6 linked regions of the Homo sapiens genome follow. The protein of the gene in region 6 interacts with the protein of the main gene of each other region in a pairwise test. Each region holds a gene or a part of one and is shown on either strand. Other genes may lie near its edges.

Region 1 (2,857 bases), on a different chromosome or scaffold from region 6:
CAAAACCAAAATCACCTTCAGGTGATTCAGATCCACACTGGAGCTTGGGAAGCACCATCCTTGATGATAAACTCAGCTTCCCTTCTTCTGTGTGGATGTCCCTGATGACCTGCGCTTTCACAATCCCTCCATCATGTAAGCTAGGTCTCCTCAGTCCATCAGCCACACAGCAGCACTGCTGCACCCTGCTTTCCACAGTCAAGGTAAAGCACTACTTTGAAAATCTGATACCTCTCTTATGCCTGTGAGATGATGATTTAGCTTCCCTGGGGCCTTCCTTCCCTTTAGGGCCTCATCACCACACTTCTGACTACTCTTGATTCCTTGCCTAGCTTCCTCTATGGTCAGCAAGCTAACAGAGGCTATCGGTAAAATTTGTCACTCTTCTACCTTCCTATTAAACTTTCACTCTTCTACCCCGCTATTTTGCGTTCTGAATCTTCCTGCATGCTTTAGACTGCTGTTAGGAAAACTCAGGAATGAAGCTACCACACACTCACTCTTATTTCAGCTGCACATTACCTGATGCTTGGCTATGTCTGGCCATAACGTCCGATCAATTTCCTAGCAAGTTCCTTTAACTGCTTTTCTACGCTTTCCGACTGTCAGTATTGAAATTTCCATTTCTTCATCATTCTCAGCAGATACCCTCAACTGTAATCAGTCATCAACTGCTACATCTCTTGACTTATATAGAGCTGATTCCAACTGTATTCTCTTTTCTGCCTCTTCCCTCCTTTTTGTCTTACACCAGCTGTGCCACCTATGCTTAATATTGAGTCTCATGCAGTCCTGCTCCTCTAAGTTCTTCTCCACTCAATTATCCCCACTCTCCTCATCTTTACTGTCTCCTCTGGCTCCTCTTTCTTTACATTTAAACATGCCAAGCTCTCTCCTATTTGGCTAAACTCCAAGCTTCCTGGAGGACATGGCTATGTCTCATTTGTTCACCCCAGTTCTTGGCTCATAAAGCGTATTTTAAAAATTTTGGTTATTATTTGAATAAAAACTTTGTTGGTCCTCATTTCTCCTGGCAACCTTTCTGGGTCTTTTTCTGAAAAACTTCTTGAGTGGGCACCTTTCCTTTCCTCTTTATTGAAACTGTTTCAGTGAGGGTCACTGGTATGCTCCTAAATGCCAATCTCAGGGTCTTTTCTTGGCCTTTCTTTTGAATCTCTCTATAGCATGTTATTATTGGCCCTTTGAAATTGTTTACCCGGCTGGGTGTGGTGGCTCATGTCTGTAATCTCAGCACTTTGGGAGGTTGAGGTGGGCAGATCACCTGAGGTCAGGAGTTTGAGACTAGCCTGGCCAACATGGTGAAACCCCATCTTTACTAAAATATACAGAAATTAGCCAGGTATGGTGGCGCATGCCTCTAGTCCCAGCTACTTGGGAGGCTGAGGCAGAAGAATTGCTTGAATCCAGGAGGTGGAGGTTGCAGTGAGCCGAGATTGTGCCACTGTACTCCAGCCTGGGTGACAGAGTAACACTCCATCTCAAAACAAACAAACAAACAAACAAATAAACATGAAAGAAAGAAATTCTTCTGTCTTTATTCCCAGAATGCTTGGTTCACCCTACAATATAATCGCTGCTTTTCTTGGTTGCTTCTCTTCTTCATCTTCCCAAAATAAAAAGTATCCTAGGTTCAGTTCTTGGTCCTCTTATCTCCTTCCCTCTGAAGTGTTTCTGTTGAAATTGTCCTTCAGTCTCCTGTCATCAACTATACTCTAGTGTGGATAATTCAAAATTCTCTCTAGCCTCAATCCTCATACTGACCTCTACTGCCACATTTTCAAATGCCTAATAGACACTATCGGTAGATACCTTCTTGGCCCAAAGAAAACAATGCTTCTCCGTGTTGGAAAGTCAAGCCCCAAATGTGAACATCATCAAGTAGATAAGAGGTGGCAGCATCTTACCATGGCCCGCTTCATAAAAGCCTCCTGGGTTGCCTCCTTGTTTGCAGCCTTGCCACCCCAGGCAGCCAGTGCACTGGCCTGCAGGGCCCGTCCATAAGAGAAACTTAGTTTCCAGGGCTTTGGTAGAGGGCAAAGGTTGATAGCATTGAGGTTGAGAGTGGCATCCTCTTCACTCATGCCACCAGACAAAAAGCAGATGCCTGGTAGGAGAGAAGCCATTTCACTCTATTAGTCCCACCTTATATACCCTGCTTGAGAAAGCAAGCAATGAACCTACCAGAAAAGTAATGTCTCAGTCTTTTCTCTGCTTAATTTGCCTTAAAGCAAACTGAGAAATCAGTTTGCTTTTGCTGAAGCTAGTTGGGCTAGAGATAAGTGCTTTAAATACGTAAGGAAGGCAGTGAAATGTTGAAGAAATACATGGATTGTGGGCATTTGGGCAGACTTGGGATGCTTGGTATTCTGAAGTGGGAGAAGAAGTGCTGGCTGCCTGTGAGATAACAGAGGTTTGTTTCATGAATAGAAGCAGATTTCTGGACAAACAGAAAGCTTGTGGCTCTCCAAAGAATGAGGGCTAAGACCTTGAGTTAGAGAAGAAAGAAGGCCTTACCAGGAACAGCTGCAGGAACAGTACGGTGGAGAGCTGTTACGGTGGCCATAGCTACTTGTTCTGGAGTATACTTCTTGGTGCAGGCATGTCCAGCAGTCACCATGTTGGGCTTTAGCAGGGTGCCCTCCAGGTAAACATGATGGTCATTCAGGGCCTTGTAGACAGCAGCCAGGACCTGAAGGACAAGAGGTCCCACCAGGTGAAACTCAAAGCTAGTCATAGAGCCACTTGACCTTGGCACATTTACACTGCAGGGAGGCAGGATGAAGGAATTCTTATTTGTTGCTTGGCAAAAGCTTCTGAACCAATCTCCAGGCCTCAT
Region 2 (3,500 bases), on a different chromosome or scaffold from region 6:
TGCCAGGTCTAGAAACTCGATTTGTATGAGTTTACTCAGGGGTAGGGAAGTAACACACAAAGACTAAATGCAAAGAGACTAGTGTATAAACCAGAATGCCACTCTATTAATTTGTAATGAGAATTATTTATTTTCCATAACAAAACTTTAAGAATATGCTATAACACACGCACGCACGCATACGCGCATGCACTACCCTCACCAAGAAGGCTCCTGGTAAGCATGGTATCAATGCCACGAAGTCCTGGAGAAACATTCCCTCTCCTAAGAATTGAGAACATCTAGAGCTGCTCCTTCATTTTACAAACAAGGAGATTGAGGCCCAGAGAGATTAAGTGACTAGTTCATGATACTTGTGCAATGAGGCAGTGGGGGACCTGGCACTGTTATTACAAGCATTTATTTGAATTCTGTAGTACCACTGCTGACACTAATTCTGTTCTTTCTGCAGAGAACAGAAAAAACGCAAGCAGCAGAGAACAGGAAAAGGAAATCGAAGAGGCAGAAAGAGACAACAAAACACAGAATTGAAGGTGGAGCCTCAGCCACAGATAGAAAAGGAAATAGTGGAGAAAGCACTGGCACCTATAGAGAAAAAAACTGAGCCACCTGGGAGCATAACCAAAGTATTTCCTTCAGTAGCCTCCCCGCAAAAAGTTGTGCCTGAGGAACACTTTTCTGAAATATGTCAAGAAAGTAACATATATCAGGAGAATTTTTCTGAGTACCAAGAAATAGCAGTACAAAACCATTCTTCTGAAACATGCCAACATGTGTCTGAACCTGAAGACCTCTCTCCTAAAATGTACCAAGAAATATCTGTACTTCAAGACAATTCTTCCAAAATATGCCAAGACATGAAGGAACCTGAAGACAACTCTCCTAACACATGCCAAGTAATATCTGTAATTCAAGACCATCCTTTCAAAATGTACCAAGATATGGCTAAACGAGAAGATCTGGCTCCTAAAATGTGCCAAGAAGCTGCTGTACCCAAAATCCTTCCTTGTCCAACATCTGAAGACACAGCTGATCTGGCAGGATGCTCTCTTCAAGCATATCCAAAACCAGATGTGCCTAAAGGCTATATTCTTGACACAGACCAAAATCCAGCAGAACCAGAGGAATACAATGAAACAGATCAAGGAATAGCTGAGACAGAAGGCCTTTTTCCTAAAATACAAGAAATAGCTGAGCCTAAAGACCTTTCTACAAAAACACACCAAGAATCAGCTGAACCTAAATACCTTCCTCATAAAACATGTAACGAAATTATTGTGCCTAAAGCCCCCTCTCATAAAACAATCCAAGAAACACCTCATTCTGAAGACTATTCAATTGAAATAAACCAAGAAACTCCTGGGTCTGAAAAATATTCACCTGAAACGTATCAAGAAATACCTGGGCTTGAAGAATATTCACCTGAAATATACCAAGAAACATCCCAGCTTGAAGAATATTCACCTGAAATATACCAAGAAACACCGGGGCCTGAAGACCTCTCTACTGAGACATATAAAAATAAGGATGTGCCTAAAGAATGCTTTCCAGAACCACACCAAGAAACAGGTGGGCCCCAAGGCCAGGATCCTAAAGCACACCAGGAAGATGCTAAAGATGCTTATACTTTTCCTCAAGGTAAGGGCTGTTTATAGCACCAAGGTAGGTACATCTCCCCCAGAGTAGTGATTTACAACTTTCTCTGACAATCCTGGGTATTCCCTGTTATTTCAATGGATACTGTGAATTTCATTGACTAGTTTTAAGTGAACAATATTTTCATGCAACCAACGTCTGTCTTGGCATATTTCAAAGAGTTAAAAAAATTGAAAATGCAAGCATGTACATTAAGTACTTATTCATACTATCCATCCATTATGAGATGCTATAGTCAGTGAAATGAACCCAATATAGGATGAATTATTGCAAAATATTTTTAAAAATTAAGTCTACATTAACAAGAAAGCTTGATGAATGAAGTTTTTCTAGGAAATTTAATTTGCCTGATAAATGGAAAGCAGGTAAATTCATAGTACGAAGTACTGAGGGAGATAAAAGCTGTAAAATATAATCCTGTTACTAGGGAATTCATTCTTGTAGGATTTATCAGGTTTACCAAAAACCCTTTCTATTTCAAGATTTGTTCCTGAAAAACTTTTTCCTAAGTATAGGAATTTGAAAATAATGCAACCTTTCTTTAATTTCACTTGCCTCAGAGACATAACTGAGAACTTCAGCTCTCTTTGTACAATACTGTAGACAGTATAAGAAATGGACTGAGTCTATCAGACCATAGTTATCCCCAGGAAACTGATTTCTAAAGAAATCCCTTTAGTAGTTTACTTGCTCTTTATCCTAAAAGATGAGTGCAACAAAAACATGGTGCTAGTTGGTTTCCAAGTAATACCAGTTTTGAAGAACTACTTTAAAGAAATACATTGCAGCAAAAGCAGGCATGTGAAGCAGTACGTGCACTGACAGGAGTACCCTGCTGGAGAAGCAGCTCTAACCAACACAGCGTCCTGATTCCTAACTGCTTCATTCTAAACCCAGCAAGGTCGATATGGTCAATTAATTAACGCTTATTTTATTTTTGGCTTTGTTTGACCAAATAAATGGGAATATCTATTTTTCCTGATTATAAAAGTAGTAAGTGTTCATTATAATAAAGCAATATGTAAGTGAATATCAAGTAAAGTAAAAGTCCCCTATAATACCATCTTCTATCTTCAGTTCCCAATGTTAAGGTTGTTTTGTTTCAACAAATGAGACAGTACCCATCCTATCCTGTAACTTGTTTTTGTTTTCATTTACAATATGTATTGCAGCCATCTTTATGATGTCTTTTGTAACAACTGCATAGTACTGTGCTATATGTATATTCAACCAGTCTCTATAAGGATGAACACTTAGGTTACTGCCAAGTTTTACTATTACAACAATGTTCAATGAACATCATTGGGAATAACATTTATTTAGTTAACATTTATCTGGTACTTTTCTATGTGCCAGACACCATATTAAATATTTTATGTGGTTTATTTTATTCAATGTTAAAAGCTCTACTGGATAAATAATACTCCCATTCTAAATATAAGGAAATGGAGGCACTGGAGGCTGAAGTTTGTCTGATTATTTCCTTTGAATCAACCCCTAGAAATCAAATTGTTGGGCCAAACGGTACCCAAATTTAAAGTTTGAATATACAGTCAGTCAGACTAGCCTCCAGAAATGTGGTAGCAATTCACACGAGACAGGTGCCTTTTCCCCACACCCTTGTCAGCACTGTACATTATGACATTTTAAAAATCCTTGTCTGTCTGCTAGGTTAAAAAATACACTTGATCGGCCGGGCGCGGTGGCTCACGCCTGTAATCCCAGCACGTTGGGAGGCCGAGGTGGGCGGATCACGAGGTCAGGAGATCGAGACCATTCTGGCTAACACGATGAAACCCCGTCTCTACTAAAATTACAAAAAATTAGCCGGGCGCGGTGGCGGG
Region 3 (2,797 bases), on a different chromosome or scaffold from region 6:
AGTAATTGGTATATACCCAAGAGAAATGAAAATATGCATCCACACAAAAACTTGTTCATGACTGCTCATAGCAGCACTATCTTTTAGGCAATGGAGTCTTAGATATAACAGCACTATTTTTTAGTGCTGCTACGGGCAGTCATGAACAAGTTTTTGTGTGGATCTACAGTAGCCAAAAGGTAGACAAAGTGGCATTGGGTTCCTTCAGTGCTTGTCAAGCTGGGCCTCTTGAGCCTAAGGGGGTCCCTGGGGTACAGGTATAGGGGTGATGAGAGTCCAGTCTCACTCACTATTAGAAAAGTGATTTAGATATGATTTCTCACCAACCAAACCAGCAAAAAATTTCCCCCAAATCCTGAAACTAGAACCCTTGGTGTGGACGAGAAAAATGGGCAATGGGCAATGGGCAATGGGCACTGCTTAATGGTGGGAGGGGGTGGCCTGTTTCCCTGGAGGGTGACTTGGCACCATGTCCACAGCTGCCACCCTCTGATTAAGGAATGATTACAGATGTGTACAAAGAGCTAATGTGGGAGGATGTCATCTCTGCCTTCTTTCTAGGAGCCCTGCATGGGACATCCTCGCCCTTGTCCGACAGAGGCGATCTGGTTCCCCAGGCAGTGGGAACACTCTGCAGCTGTTTAAATGACAGTGTCCCACACTGCAATCAAAGCCCCTTTGTGGGCCATGAACTGAGTTAGTGGACTGGGCTAGGATTTAAAAAGCAGGGAGAAAATATTAGAAAGCAGCCTTTCTAGTAAGGTTAAGTGCTGTCCTGTGACCTGTTGGTCTCAAGTTGTGTATGTGTGCAAGGACCGTGTGTTTAGAACATGTTTATACAGTGGGTCAGAGTCAGAAAAGTATGAAAACCAATGATGTAAATGAATACTGAAGGATATGGCATAGGGTTTATCCAGTTAACATTTACCAAGCAGTTTATGGAACCTAATGCATGTTATGATTCCATTTTATAAAAATAACTCACATACATGGAAAGATGCTATGGACAGTGACTGTCTCTAGATTCCAGGATTTTATTATTTATTTATTCGTTTATTTGAGACAGAGTCTCATTCTGTTGCTCAGGCCAGAGTGAAGTGGCATGATCTTGGCTCACTGCAACCTCCACCTCCCAGGTTAAAGCGATTCTCATGCCTCAGCCTCCCCAGTAGCTGGGATTACAGGTGTGTGCCACCATGCCTGGCTAACTTTTTGTATTTTTAGTAGATATGGGGTTTCGTCATGTTGCCTCAGCTGGCCCCGAACTCCTGAGCTCAGATGATCTGCTCGCCTTGGCCTCCCAAAGTGCTAGGATTACAGGCGTGAGCCACCGCGCCCGGCTCAGGATTTTAAAGTTATCCTTTTGCTGGTTTCATAAATTCTTTTTTCTACAATGCGCATATATTCCTTTCGGAATAATAAGCAATGAAAGGTAGCACATTGGGGTGGGGGTGGGGGGAGCACAGAAAAGAACAGGAGATTGCTTTTGCCTTGATGGAAGGGGACTCCTCACTCTCCTGGCTTCAGTGCACAAAGGCCACCAAGCTAACCAAGCTAACCAAGCAGGGCCTCACTGGGTGGAGCAAACCAGGAGAGCAGAGTGAGTGTCCCCAGGTGAGGGAACTGCACTTGGAGGGTCACACAGCTTTCAGGGGCTGGAAATTTGGGAGCTGGGGCCTCCTAGGTCTATGGCTGAGGAAACCTGTCCAGATGACACACACAGCTACCGACAAATGAAGGCTGTACGCTCACGCCATGTAATTGAAGAAGAGAGTTGACGAACAAGAGACTGGCAGGCTGGAGGACTCCAAGAGAATGATCTGGGCAACACAGGACTAAAGGAGCCTGGAAGATTTTTTTTTTTCCAAAATATTGCAATTTGCTCAGACAAATTGTGGCACAAATACCAATCAACATTGGATTAGTTATTTGTTGGGTCTAGGAACCAGTGCAGAGTTGCAATTATAACCCATACTTGTTTATTCTGTTAAATTAAAATATCATTTTCCCATGACCTTTATTTCATTTTTCAAGATGACGTGCCCTGCCCAGCATGCTGTTTGGAGGTGATGTCCTTTGAAGCTCTGGTGCCTATTTGAAGTGACTGATTCCTGGTACTCACCCTCCCTGCTAACCACGTGGAATTCCCCTTTCATGCTTGCCTTCCTCATGGGAAGAGGGCTCCACGTGGGCAGGGACCATGCTGTGTCCTGTTCGCTGGTAAAGCTACAGTGCCCGGCACAGAGCAGGGGTGGAGGGATGAAGGGAGGGAGGGATGGACGGAAAGTAGGTAGGCAGGTAGATGGACAGGGAAGGAGTCTGTATAAGAAAGTGTTTATTCATGGTGGGGCGGAGGGTCACACATACAGGCCTTGGATAGTGTGCAGGGACTGCTTCCAGCTGTCCTTCCAGCGCTGAGCCTCCTTTATCTGAGATGTACAGTCATCCTGGATCCTCTTTAGCTCCTCCTCAAATGATGCTAAATATTTCTAGAAGGAAGGTAGCAGGAGGGGTCCACATGAGGAGAGACATCTGGACCCTCTCCCCTAGGGCAATGCTGTAACTTGCTGGCAGGTGGTTTTTAACCCATTCCAGGCACTGGCAAGAGTTCTCCAAGTCACTTCTCAGGTAGAAACCAGGTAGTCCTAGTTGTTTTCCCCATTTTACAAGACAGGAAAACTGAGGCTCAGAGCCTGGCCTGGGGTCACCCAGCTAGAAGGAGGCTGAGCAGGGACTAGGACCTGTGTCTATCTGACTCTAGGCTCAGCACTCCTTCCTGAGCTCTGTCCCACACTGT
Region 4 (3,500 bases), on a different chromosome or scaffold from region 6:
TATTGTATTAATCTGTTTTCACACTGCTGATAAAGATATACCCGAGACTGGGCAAAAGAAAGAGGTTTAACTGGACTCACAGTTCCCCAGACCCACGTGGCTGGGGAGGCCTCACAATCATGGTGGAAGGCAAGGAGGAGCAAGTCACATCTTACGTGGATGGCAGCAGGCAAAAAGAGTGCTTGTGCAGAGAAACTCCCATTTTAAAAACCATCAGATCTCATGACACTCATTCACTATCATGAGAGCAGCACAGGAAAGACCTTCCCCCATAATTCAATCCCCCCCCCACCAGGTTCCTCCCACAACACACGGGAATTGTGGGAGTTACTATTCAAGATGAGATTTGGGTAAGGACACAGCCAAACCACATCAGGCCTGCAAAGCCAAAAAATTGGTAATTGAATTTACCCAGTTTGGCAAATGCCTTCAAAGTGAAAATCAGCTTTAGAGAGCTCAATTGACCTTTCTCTGTGCCTGTGTACTTATAACTTCTGTCCTAAATATTCCTGACTTTCTTACCAACTTGTGAATGTATTTAAGAGAATGTTTTAAAATGTTTGTCCAGTGTTTTTTGTTGTTTTTATCAGGAAGGTTAGTAAAGGTTCCTAGTCCTCTGTGTTGCTATAAACAGGAGAGTCTCTGTATTTTTATTTTTGTTTCTCTATTCCTAACTAGATTTTACTATTCTTGAGGGGAGTAATCTTGCTTTGGACTTCTTTTGCCTTCTCTGTAGTACAACACTCAGTGTTCAGTGGATACTCAGTTACACAGATAGACATGTAGCTAGAAAACACTTTTGAGGGTTTCCATTTTACATATTTCATGTCTATTATATTTTTTAACCTTCCCAGTTATTTGGCAAGGTAGGTTATTTATTTATTTAAGACAGGGTCTCACTCTGTCCCCCAGGCTGGAGTACAGTGGTGCAATTATGGCTCACTGCGGCCTCAACCTCCTGGGCTTAAGTGATCCTCCTGCCTCAGCCTTCCAAGTAGTGGAGACCACAGGTACACACCACTGTGCCTGGCTAAGTTTTTTATTTTTTGTAGAGATGGGGTCTTGCTTTGTTTCCTAGGCTGGTCTCAAACTCCTGGGCTCAAGTGATTCTCCTACCTTGGCCTCCCGAAGTGTTGGGATTACAGTCATGAGCCATCATGCCTGGCCATTATTATTACCTCCATTTTACTGATCAGTAAACTAAGACTTAGAGGAAGAATTTGGATACAAATCTGGTAATAACTAGGGGTAGAATTTAGATTTGTGACTATTGACTCATAATTCTGTGTCCTTTACAATGTGCCATTTTGCTATTTAATTAATGTCATTGATATTTGACATCTCCTGATTACTTTATCTAGATATGAAAATTCCAGAGAAACCACTGGATTCATAATATCTTGATGAAATTATCTCTAAATCCTCACCTAAAATTTTTTTAGGTATTTACTTTGCTTAAGCTTTCATCAGTGACTTAAAACAATATATTGACTTCTGTTACAGAAAGCAGAAGAAAGAATTGGTCTTTTTTGCTGTTGCAGCATTGTGAAATATTTTTGTTGTAAAATATAGGTAATTTTTGTCTTTTCCAACAGGTGTGTATGTAATATAGATTGCAGTGGATACAGTTTTAATCCTGTGTGTGCTTCTGATGGGAGTTCCTATAACAATCCCTGTTTTGTTCGAGAAGCATCTTGTATAAAGCAAGAACAAATTGATATAAGGCATCTTGGTCATTGCACAGGTAAAATCCATTTTATTTATTCAGAGACCCATCTTTATTATTGTATAAATGTAATCTTATTTGTACATTTGGTAGTGTTTCAAATTTGTAAAATGAGAAATCCTCGAAGCTTTATTTTTTTATTACTTTATATTTCAGATTTTTTATTACTAATTTAGTTTTTTTTCATTATTTTCATCTTCTCAAGACATAAACCATGCTTCTTGGTTTTTTATTTAGTTAGTTCTTGGTTGCTAGCTGATCCTAACATGGAATTATAATTATTATTTATAGTTCTAATATCATCTCAAATTTGGAATGATTATAGCTATTTAAGAGTTAGATAACTTATTTTAATTTCAGTAAAACTATGTTATTGCCATATATTTGTTAAACCTCTTTTTATAGAGCATAATAGTTTACTTTGTTTTTCCATTATCTGTATCATTTTCCCTGTACATATTATGTATGATACAGATTTTGGTGTGAAGTTAGAGAATGTAAGGAAAAATTATTGCCTTTAGCTTAAAATTCTTTTCACCCTTCTTGCTTTTTGTTATAGCTTAGAAACCATGATACCATATAAGAAAGAGTTTTTGTTTTCCACCCCTACTAGAAATATTCAGTCTCTAAAGCCAGAGTTCCCAATTTTCTTTCCCCAGTAATATTCAGATGAGTTGGGAAGATGGATTATTTCCTCAGTCACATATGTGGACCAGGCACACTCTCATGGACTAGGATTGTATATCTTTCTTGCTTACTGGTTCCCTTCTTCCTCCCTTTTTAGACTTATTAAAGGGATATTATGTTTTTATCTGAGCTAAAGGGAAAAGGTTGTAAGCCAAAATTTGGTACATTATATTGGTAACAAATTATTTGTGACACACTACACAATTGATTGCAGTACCTCTGGTCTAAACTACCAAAGAATACCCAGGAAGCTCATCAGACAATTTTTAGGTAGGAGTTGAGTGTGGGCATGATAGAGGACACCATTTACTGACAGGGACCCCTTCTGGGTAGATGTCCCACTTAGCCTTGATCTTGAAGAAGTATGGTCCCCCCACCCCAGTGGGGTGGCATTTAGAGCTTGAGTGGGAAGACTAGCTTAGAGAAGGACTATGTTCTCTGAGGAAAAGATGCATATTTGAATGATACTCTACTCTTTGGAATTTCAAGTTCAGAGCACCTGGTCAGTGTATTAGTTCATCCTCACGTTGCTAGAAAGAATTACCTGAGACTGGGTAATTTATAAAGAAAAGAGGTATAATTGGCTTACAGTTCCACAGGCTATACAGGAAGCATGGCTGAGGGCCTCAGGAAACACAATCATGGTAGATGGCAAAGAGGAAGCAGGCACATCTTACATGGCCGGAAAAGGAGGAAGAGAGAACAAAGGGAGGTGTCATGCACTTTTGTAAACAACTAGGTCTTGTGAGAACTCACTCACTATTATGAGAACAGCGAGAGGGAAATCTGCCCCCCATGATCCAGTCACCTTCCACAAGGCCCCTTTTCCAACGTTGGGGATTACAATTAGACACGGCATTTGGGCAGGGACACAGAACCAAACCATATCAGTCAAGTTTGAGAGTTTAATTGAAATGCATCCTTTAGAGTGATTGGGCCTTAAGTTTTGTCTTAGTCCCCTCTGTAATTTTTCATTCACAAACCTAACTATGTCTTTCGTTTGCCTCCTCCACTAGTACTGGGAAGCTTGTGCTTCTAAACACGTGGTTATGGCTCATTTATAGTCTTCCCAGTCCAGGTGCAGTTC
Region 5 (2,943 bases), on a different chromosome or scaffold from region 6:
CCTGCAAGTTAAGACCAGCAAGAATTAGGATTGCAGAAAATAAGAAAGAGAGTTTTCTTGGTGTCTCCTAAGTTTCTTTGATTCCACATCCATTCACCGAGCACCTACAAGGTATGTATTTGGGGCTGTGCTAAAAAATGTGATGAGAATCCTGTTCCCAATAAATAGAAAATGGAAAAATGGAGACAGCCTCTCATCATCTCACAATAGGTCAGATTGCCCACAGAAGCCCCAACGAGGGTATGGTTGATTCTGGTTATGGGGCTGAGGCAGGCATTACAGAAACTGTACCATTTAGTAACACCTTAAAGGCTGAGAAAGTTTGTTACCAAGCTAAGGAACCGGGCAGGGGTGGGAGGCAGTGTGTAATTTACAGGAGAGGAAACTGCACAAGTGTCTGCTTAGCAATGTGGAGAGGGATATGGTCCTGGAGGAGGAGCCTGTGGGACTCGGGTGTGCGTGTGCGGAGCTTGGGGGCAGGAGGGGAATCCAGGATAAGGTGAAAGGAGAGATGAGTAAGCTGGAGAGAAAGCCTGGGGCAGATCTGAGGCCTCCTTGAACGTCCTGCAAACATTTGAGCTTCATCTCTAGCAAACAGCAGCCATCGATGGCTTTTAAACAAAGAAAGGACAAAATCAGATATTCCATATAGAGCAAGCTCCACACAGCCATTTCTTCTCTTCATATTCACTAGCTTGTAACCTCTTTAGGGAGATGTCACGATGGGCACTCTCGGTCTCGAGATAACTGATAGATGCACCTCAGGCAGGCCTAGCAAGGGGCAGACACCACTTGACGGGCATTTGAGTGGGGGAACCACATTTCATCCCATCTGGGACCATGGACCCCAGAAGGGAAGATGTTTTACTGCCATGAATTCATTCATTTGTTTAACTTTATTATCCTAATTTTCTTCTGCCAAGAGAAAGTAGCAAAGGCTGACATGGAGACTGATTTTTGATGTCTCAGGGTGAGAATTCCAGTCTCCAGTACTGAGGTGAGAACTTCATCGTGGGCTCAGTGTAGACGGAAGCCCAATCCACTCCATCCCTGCTTCCTTTCACCTTTAGGGTAAGTCATCAACCAATAGATTTCCACACTGCTCAGGAGCCCCACATGAGGCCCAAGGCCCTCGATCCCAAGGATCCCTTTCATCTCCGGGGGATGCCCCTGCCTCCAGAACGGCCTCTGGTGCCAGATGCCCAGAACCTGCACCACCCTCCCCGGGCCCTCACTTACTGGGGGGAACTTCTTCCTCTGGATGTACTCAGTGACGGCAGGGTCAAAGTCCCTGGCGTAGCCCTCGTTAAGGCTGTAGATTTTACCTTTCTTTTTTATCTTCACATCCTTGTCCACCAAAATGAACTCCCCGATGGCCTTTTTAGACAAGGAAGGAAAGGTGGAGAGATGACGAGCGCACTGGGTCCCCCAGGCCTGGATGAGGCGAGCGATGGGCTGGGCTACGCTGGGCTGGGGTCGCGGCGCACGGGCACCACTCATCTTGGGGCCCCGAGACACCTGCCAGGCTCTCTGGGAACTGTGAATGGGGTGAGGGGAAGCAAGACAATGCTGCAGAAGCCATCAGGGTGATAACAGACACTTTCGACTTTGTTTGCATATGATTTCAGTCAAACAAGAAAGAAACCACACAAAAATAGGGAGAGCAGACTTGTGAAACAACTGCTAAGCCTGCAAGAGAGTAAGAACCGTGTGTCCAAAGCAATATAAGATGTGTATGCCTTTACCAAACAGAAAAAAGGGTTGGTTCAGGCGGGAGGTGGGCTCTCAGGAGAGACGGGCCACCGCAGGATCAGTCCCTGAGTTACACCCAAGTGCTCAGCGCTGTTCTCGGCTTTACATTTCTACCTTGATGGGAGTTCTCCTTTCTGGGCGTTCTTATAGAACAAAGTAGAACCCTGAGTTTTGAGTCTGGCGTACGTAACTTCCGATGGCCTTTGCTCGCTGGCGTGTGAAGTTTTTCTCAGACTGCCTCTTCCCACATAGCCCAGGGTTAAGCTTATGCCTTTAAGCTTTAGGCTCTTCAAAGGAGATTTGAATTTGGGGGAAAAGTGTTGCAGAAGTCCTATTGCTCCGGATTGAGGATTGTTATGGGTTCCTGTGTGTTTTTGGCAAGAGGGTGATCGAGGCTCTGCCCATTTAGGAGGGGCTTGACGTTGACACAAGAGTTGAAAAGAAAAAAGGCCCACCGACACCTCTCTACCTAGCCATTTATTCCACAGCAGAAATTGGTTCCTACCCATATGGAATACGTTGAAACCAGACAGACAGGGAGAAAGGGAGGGGAGAATTCACAGTGGCCATTGAAAGGTGTCACTGGAAGTGATTCTTCTTTCTTACTTTTATGCCTTTTTTAATATTTTCAAAATTTTTGACCACAAGTATACCGGAATATTCTTTTATCGTTGGTAGAAAAATAAATAAATAAATGTCTTTCAAAAAACTATATAGAAAAGAAAGCCATCTCACAACAGTTGCTGGGTGCAGAGCGCAGGGCCCAGCCAGACTGTCCATGGTGCAAAGGAGGAAAGTCTGTGTACAGAGACAAAACATAAAAGCTCCCAGAAAGTTGAAGCCGCTGGAAACCCGAGTACAGCTGTAGCAGTGTTTTCAGCAGAAACCGTCAGCCTGGCTTTGCAGCAAGCGCAAACAAAGAGGAAGCACTTAGCACCTCCCTGGCGGGAGGCTCAGCCCCGTCAGGCACCGCAGACAGAAGGGCTGGAATCAAATCCCAGCAGCCCTGCATTGCGCTTCCAAACATTCAGGACTGAGGAGGGCAAAAGACTATCAAACACACAGAAGCTTCCCTACAGGGATGCTCCCCTGCAATCTGGAAACAAGAAGGGATTGAATGTTTTCTCTGCTTCCACCAACTCAAAGGTAACAAGAGAAGGCACCAGAAGAATGGGAAGCAGTCAGGGCCCG
Region 6 (3,500 bases):
ACTGCAGCAAAGAAACCAGAGCTGAGCGAGAACCAGGACAACGGGCACAAGAGAGACCAGCAAAGCAGGCGGGATGGCCTGGGAGGCTCCTCACGACCTCCAGCTCTGAAGCCAAGAGACTACAATTCACACAGTGCACTGGCTGTAAGCAGAGGGGAAGACGCCACGCGGTCTCCAGGCCTCAACCTCAGCACAGAGCGGCTCATGCAGTGCAGGGCCCCCTGCCGCCCCGGCACCTCATCTCTGAATTCACCTTGAGCGCCTTGCCCTGGAGCTCATCGATGATTCCCCGGACCTTCCCCAGCAGGAAGGGCCAGGAGTTGATGAGGTAGATCCGGTCCATCATGATGGTGATGATGCTGTACCAGCGCTGGAAGCCCCTGGCCAGGCTGTCCTTGATGAAGAAGGTGTGGCTGAACACAAAGCCGTGCTGCTCATCTCCGAAGAAGATGGGGCCTTCACGGCCAGGGCAGACCTGGAGGGACACCGGCGACTCAGACAGCCCTTTCCTCGCTTAGTGACACCAAATCAAAGCCTCTTCTTCAGACTTTTCAGAGTCAGCTGGCACAAATCAGCCAGCGTTAATAACGGGGAGAGTGGCACAGTGGGGGCCATGAGAGCCGAAGACTGTACTCTTCTGCTCCTGTGATCAAGCTTCCAACAACACTTGTCATTGTGGACTGCAAGGGCCGGTAACAAGGCTTATTGCTTTTCTTCCACCTTGAGCCATAAATAACTCCCATGCATATGTCACACCTCTCCCAGACTCAAATGTACCAGCTTACTCACCTGGAGCATGCAGAAGAACCAGCAGGTCAGAGCAGCCACTGCACTCTCCCTGCACTGAAATCCGCACATTTTATTCTTTCTTTCTTTCTTTATTTGAGATGGAGTCTCGCTCTTGTCACCCAGGCTGGAATGCAGTGGTGTGATCCTGGCCCACTGCAACCTCCGTCTCCTGGGTTCAAGCAATTCTCCTGCCTCAGCCTCCTGAGTAGCTGGGATTGTAAGAGTGTGCCACCACGCCTGGCTAATTTTTTTGTATTTTTTTTAGAGAGGGGGTTTCACCATGTTGGCCAGGCTGGTCTCGAACTCCTGACCTCAGGTGATCTGCCGGCCTTGGCCTCCCAAAGGGCTGGGATTACAGGAGTGGGCCACCATGCCCAGCCCCACGTACTTTATTCTTATAAGAGGATTTCAGTCCCTCCTCATTACATACTTACTCTTCCTTAACACACAATTCTAACAGACATGCCGAGCTGCCTGCTAGCAGACCAGCGGTAGGAAATTAAAAGGAGAGGACAGTTGAGGGCAGGCACACAGCCACACTGAATGAGAACAGTAAGGGAGCTTGGTGTGTCGAACTGGGTGGACACCAATGACAAGGAAGTTTAGTAACTGAACGACGAATTCTTTGTAACAAAGACCTGAGCTCAGAGTCAAGAGCAACAGCAGCAGCGACGTAGTTTAGGAAGAAATCATCCACACCTCAGCAGGCTGAGAGCAGCACGGGATCATCACTGAGACTTGGAATGAGGACTGAGATAATAAAAAAAGGTGATGTTGATGCAATGAACCACCTAACCTAGAAATGCTTCCTATCTTAGGAATACATCCATCAAGAATAGACACACATGGCTGGGCATGGCGGCTCACACCTGTAATCCTAGTGCTTTGGGAGGATGAGCCAGAGGATTGCTTGAGTTCGAGACCAACCTGGGCAACATACTGAGACCTCATCTCTACAAAAAAATTTTAAAAAGGTGGGGCACAGTGGCTCCCACCTGTAATCCCAGCACTTCGGGAGGCCGAGGCGGGCAAATCACAAGGTCAGGAGTTCAAGACCAGCTCGGCCAACATGGTGAAATCTCTTCTCTACTAAAAATACAAAAAATTAGCCGGGCATGGTGGCACACGCCTGTTGTCCCAGCTACTCAGGATAGCTGAGACAGAAGAATCACTTAAACCCAGGGTGGAGGTTGCAGTAAGCCGAGATTGCACCACTGCACTCCAGCCTGGGCAACCGAGTGAGACTCTGTCTTAACAACAACAAAAAACAAACCCCAGTTGAGCATGGTGGCACACACCAGTGGTCCCAGCCACCTGGGAGGCTAAGGCGGGAGGATCGCTTGAGCCCAGGAGTTTGAGGTTGCAGTGAACCATGACGGCACCACTGCACTCCAGTCTGGACGACAGAGCGAGACCCTGACACAAAAGAAGGAAAAAAGAAAACAATAATAATAAAGAAAGGACAAATAATAAAAGTTCGGTGCTTAAAGTGCAAAAGCTAGCACTCAATCAGAAAATGCTCAGCAAGTCCAACATGACTCCTCCCGCAATTCTGGACAAGGGAGGCGTCCTGTACCCTGTGCTGTGCTGATCTGCGGGTCCGCCCTGAGAGAGGACCAGTGCCTGCCTCCCTGTGCAATGCTGGCTCCGAGCCCACCCAGAGCACCTGGGAGCATGTGGGCTCCCACAGAGACAGGCTCTGTGGCCACAAGGCTCACCTCACAGCTCAGGCTCCGGACACAGGCCTGGCGGACAATGCTGAAGAGCTGGGGGTGGCTGGGGTGCTGGTGGCTGACGTATTTAATGGAGGTCTCTTTATCATGGCTGATATATCCCGGGTGCCCTGCAGCAAGTGACCGGCAGCCCTGTCCATGAAAAGGAAAAGTAAATCTGTTAGTTGGGAAGCAGGGCGACAAACTCTCTTAGGTTTATGCAAATCTGAGCTCGGAAAACTCAAGCTATTTTTGTAAAAAAATAATTGGCTTCCAGATTTATACTTATCTGAAGATTTAAATGTTTCCTAAAGAGGAAAACAGAACACAGAGATCGCAGAGATTGCCAGAGGTTGTTCCTAACAGGTATTTGCTGAGCACTTACGAAGTAGGTAACATGAAAAGGGCCCTGCATGCTCCATCTCATTCAATCCCAAGTGCCACCCTCTGAGATAATGTCAGTGAGAAGCCCCATTCTACAGAAGACAAAACTGAGGCTGAAGTGAGAAGTAGCTGGCCCGAGGGTGAGGGGCTCTGTGGTGGTAACACTACCCACTGCCCCCAGCCTCCATCATTGGTTCTGAACTAACACCTGGAAGGGGCTTCAGCCACAGGCGAGAGGCCCAATAAATAGGGCGAGCACCAAGCTCCAGGATGTTGGTGTGGCAGCTCACCACTGCTGCCCCGCTGCCCCGCTGCAGCCACAGCCACTCCGATGCTGAGGCTGTGCGCCCTGGAGCTGCTCCTACCCCAGGACTGTGCGGCAGTGCGTCAGCAAGACTCTCCCCACAGTGTCGCAGGATTCCTCCATGGGCAACCCCAAAACCAGCTCAAGGATGCCCCAGCAGCCTGGCGGTGCCCTCCTTCCCAGGTCTGAGGTGCTCCCCATCCCCCATTCCTTACAGGCAATTCCAGCAATGGATGCAGCTCTTACACGTCCTCTGCTTCTGCAGCAGAACCAAAAGAACAAGCTTGGGTTCCCGTTTGCACTGCAGTGGC

The links.
Region 1: the proteins of FLCN (region 6) and ALDOB interact in a two-hybrid assay, tested with the Homo sapiens proteins (one large-scale study listed by BioGRID and IntAct).
Region 2: the proteins of FLCN (region 6) and HEMGN interact in a two-hybrid assay, tested with the Homo sapiens proteins (one large-scale study listed by BioGRID and IntAct).
Region 3: the proteins of FLCN (region 6) and CCDC180 interact in a two-hybrid assay, tested with the Homo sapiens proteins (one large-scale study listed by BioGRID and IntAct).
Region 4: the proteins of FLCN (region 6) and TMEFF1 interact in a two-hybrid assay, tested with the Homo sapiens proteins (one large-scale study listed by BioGRID).
Region 5: the proteins of FLCN (region 6) and FBP1 interact in a two-hybrid assay, tested with the Homo sapiens proteins (one large-scale study listed by BioGRID and IntAct).

What each region holds. Positions count from the first base shown.
Region 1 is NC_000009.12:101,422,918-101,425,774, forward strand, and holds part of ALDOB (fructose-bisphosphate aldolase B), read right to left. Parts: intron 2,711-2,857; coding exon 2,536-2,710; intron 2,126-2,535; coding exon 1,926-2,125; intron 1-1,925. UniProt on the Homo sapiens protein: Catalyzes the aldol cleavage of fructose 1,6-biphosphate to form two triosephosphates dihydroxyacetone phosphate and D-glyceraldehyde 3-phosphate in glycolysis as well as the reverse stereospecific aldol addition reaction in gluconeogenesis.
Region 2 is NC_000009.12:97,928,173-97,931,672, reverse strand, and holds part of HEMGN (hemogen), read left to right. Parts: intron 1-451; coding exon 452-1,638; intron 1,639-3,500. UniProt on the Homo sapiens protein: Regulates the proliferation and differentiation of hematopoietic cells. Overexpression block the TPA-induced megakaryocytic differentiation in the K562 cell model. May also prevent cell apoptosis through the activation of the nuclear factor-kappa B (NF-kB).
Region 3 is NC_000009.12:97,376,455-97,379,251, reverse strand, and holds the end of CCDC180 (coiled-coil domain-containing protein 180), read right to left. Parts: intron 2,490-2,797; coding exon 2,358-2,489; 3' UTR 501-2,357; downstream 1-500.
Region 4 is NC_000009.12:100,546,149-100,549,648, forward strand, and holds part of TMEFF1 (tomoregulin-1 precursor), read left to right. Parts: intron 1-1,595; coding exon 1,596-1,744; intron 1,745-3,500. Other genes in the region: MSANTD3-TMEFF1 fusion protein, read left to right, coding at 1,596-1,744.
Region 5 is NC_000009.12:94,605,576-94,608,518, forward strand, and holds part of FBP1 (fructose-1,6-bisphosphatase 1), read right to left. Parts: intron 1,378-2,943; coding exon 1,240-1,377; intron 2-1,239; coding exon 1-1. UniProt on the Homo sapiens protein: Catalyzes the hydrolysis of fructose 1,6-bisphosphate to fructose 6-phosphate in the presence of divalent cations, acting as a rate-limiting enzyme in gluconeogenesis. Plays a role in regulating glucose sensing and insulin secretion of pancreatic beta-cells.
Region 6 is NC_000017.11:17,223,669-17,227,168, forward strand, and holds part of FLCN (folliculin), read right to left. Parts: intron 2,655-3,500; coding exon 2,508-2,654; intron 844-2,507; coding exon of another isoform or gene 790-843; intron 476-789; coding exon 254-475; intron 1-253. UniProt on the Homo sapiens protein: Multi-functional protein, involved in both the cellular response to amino acid availability and in the regulation of glycolysis.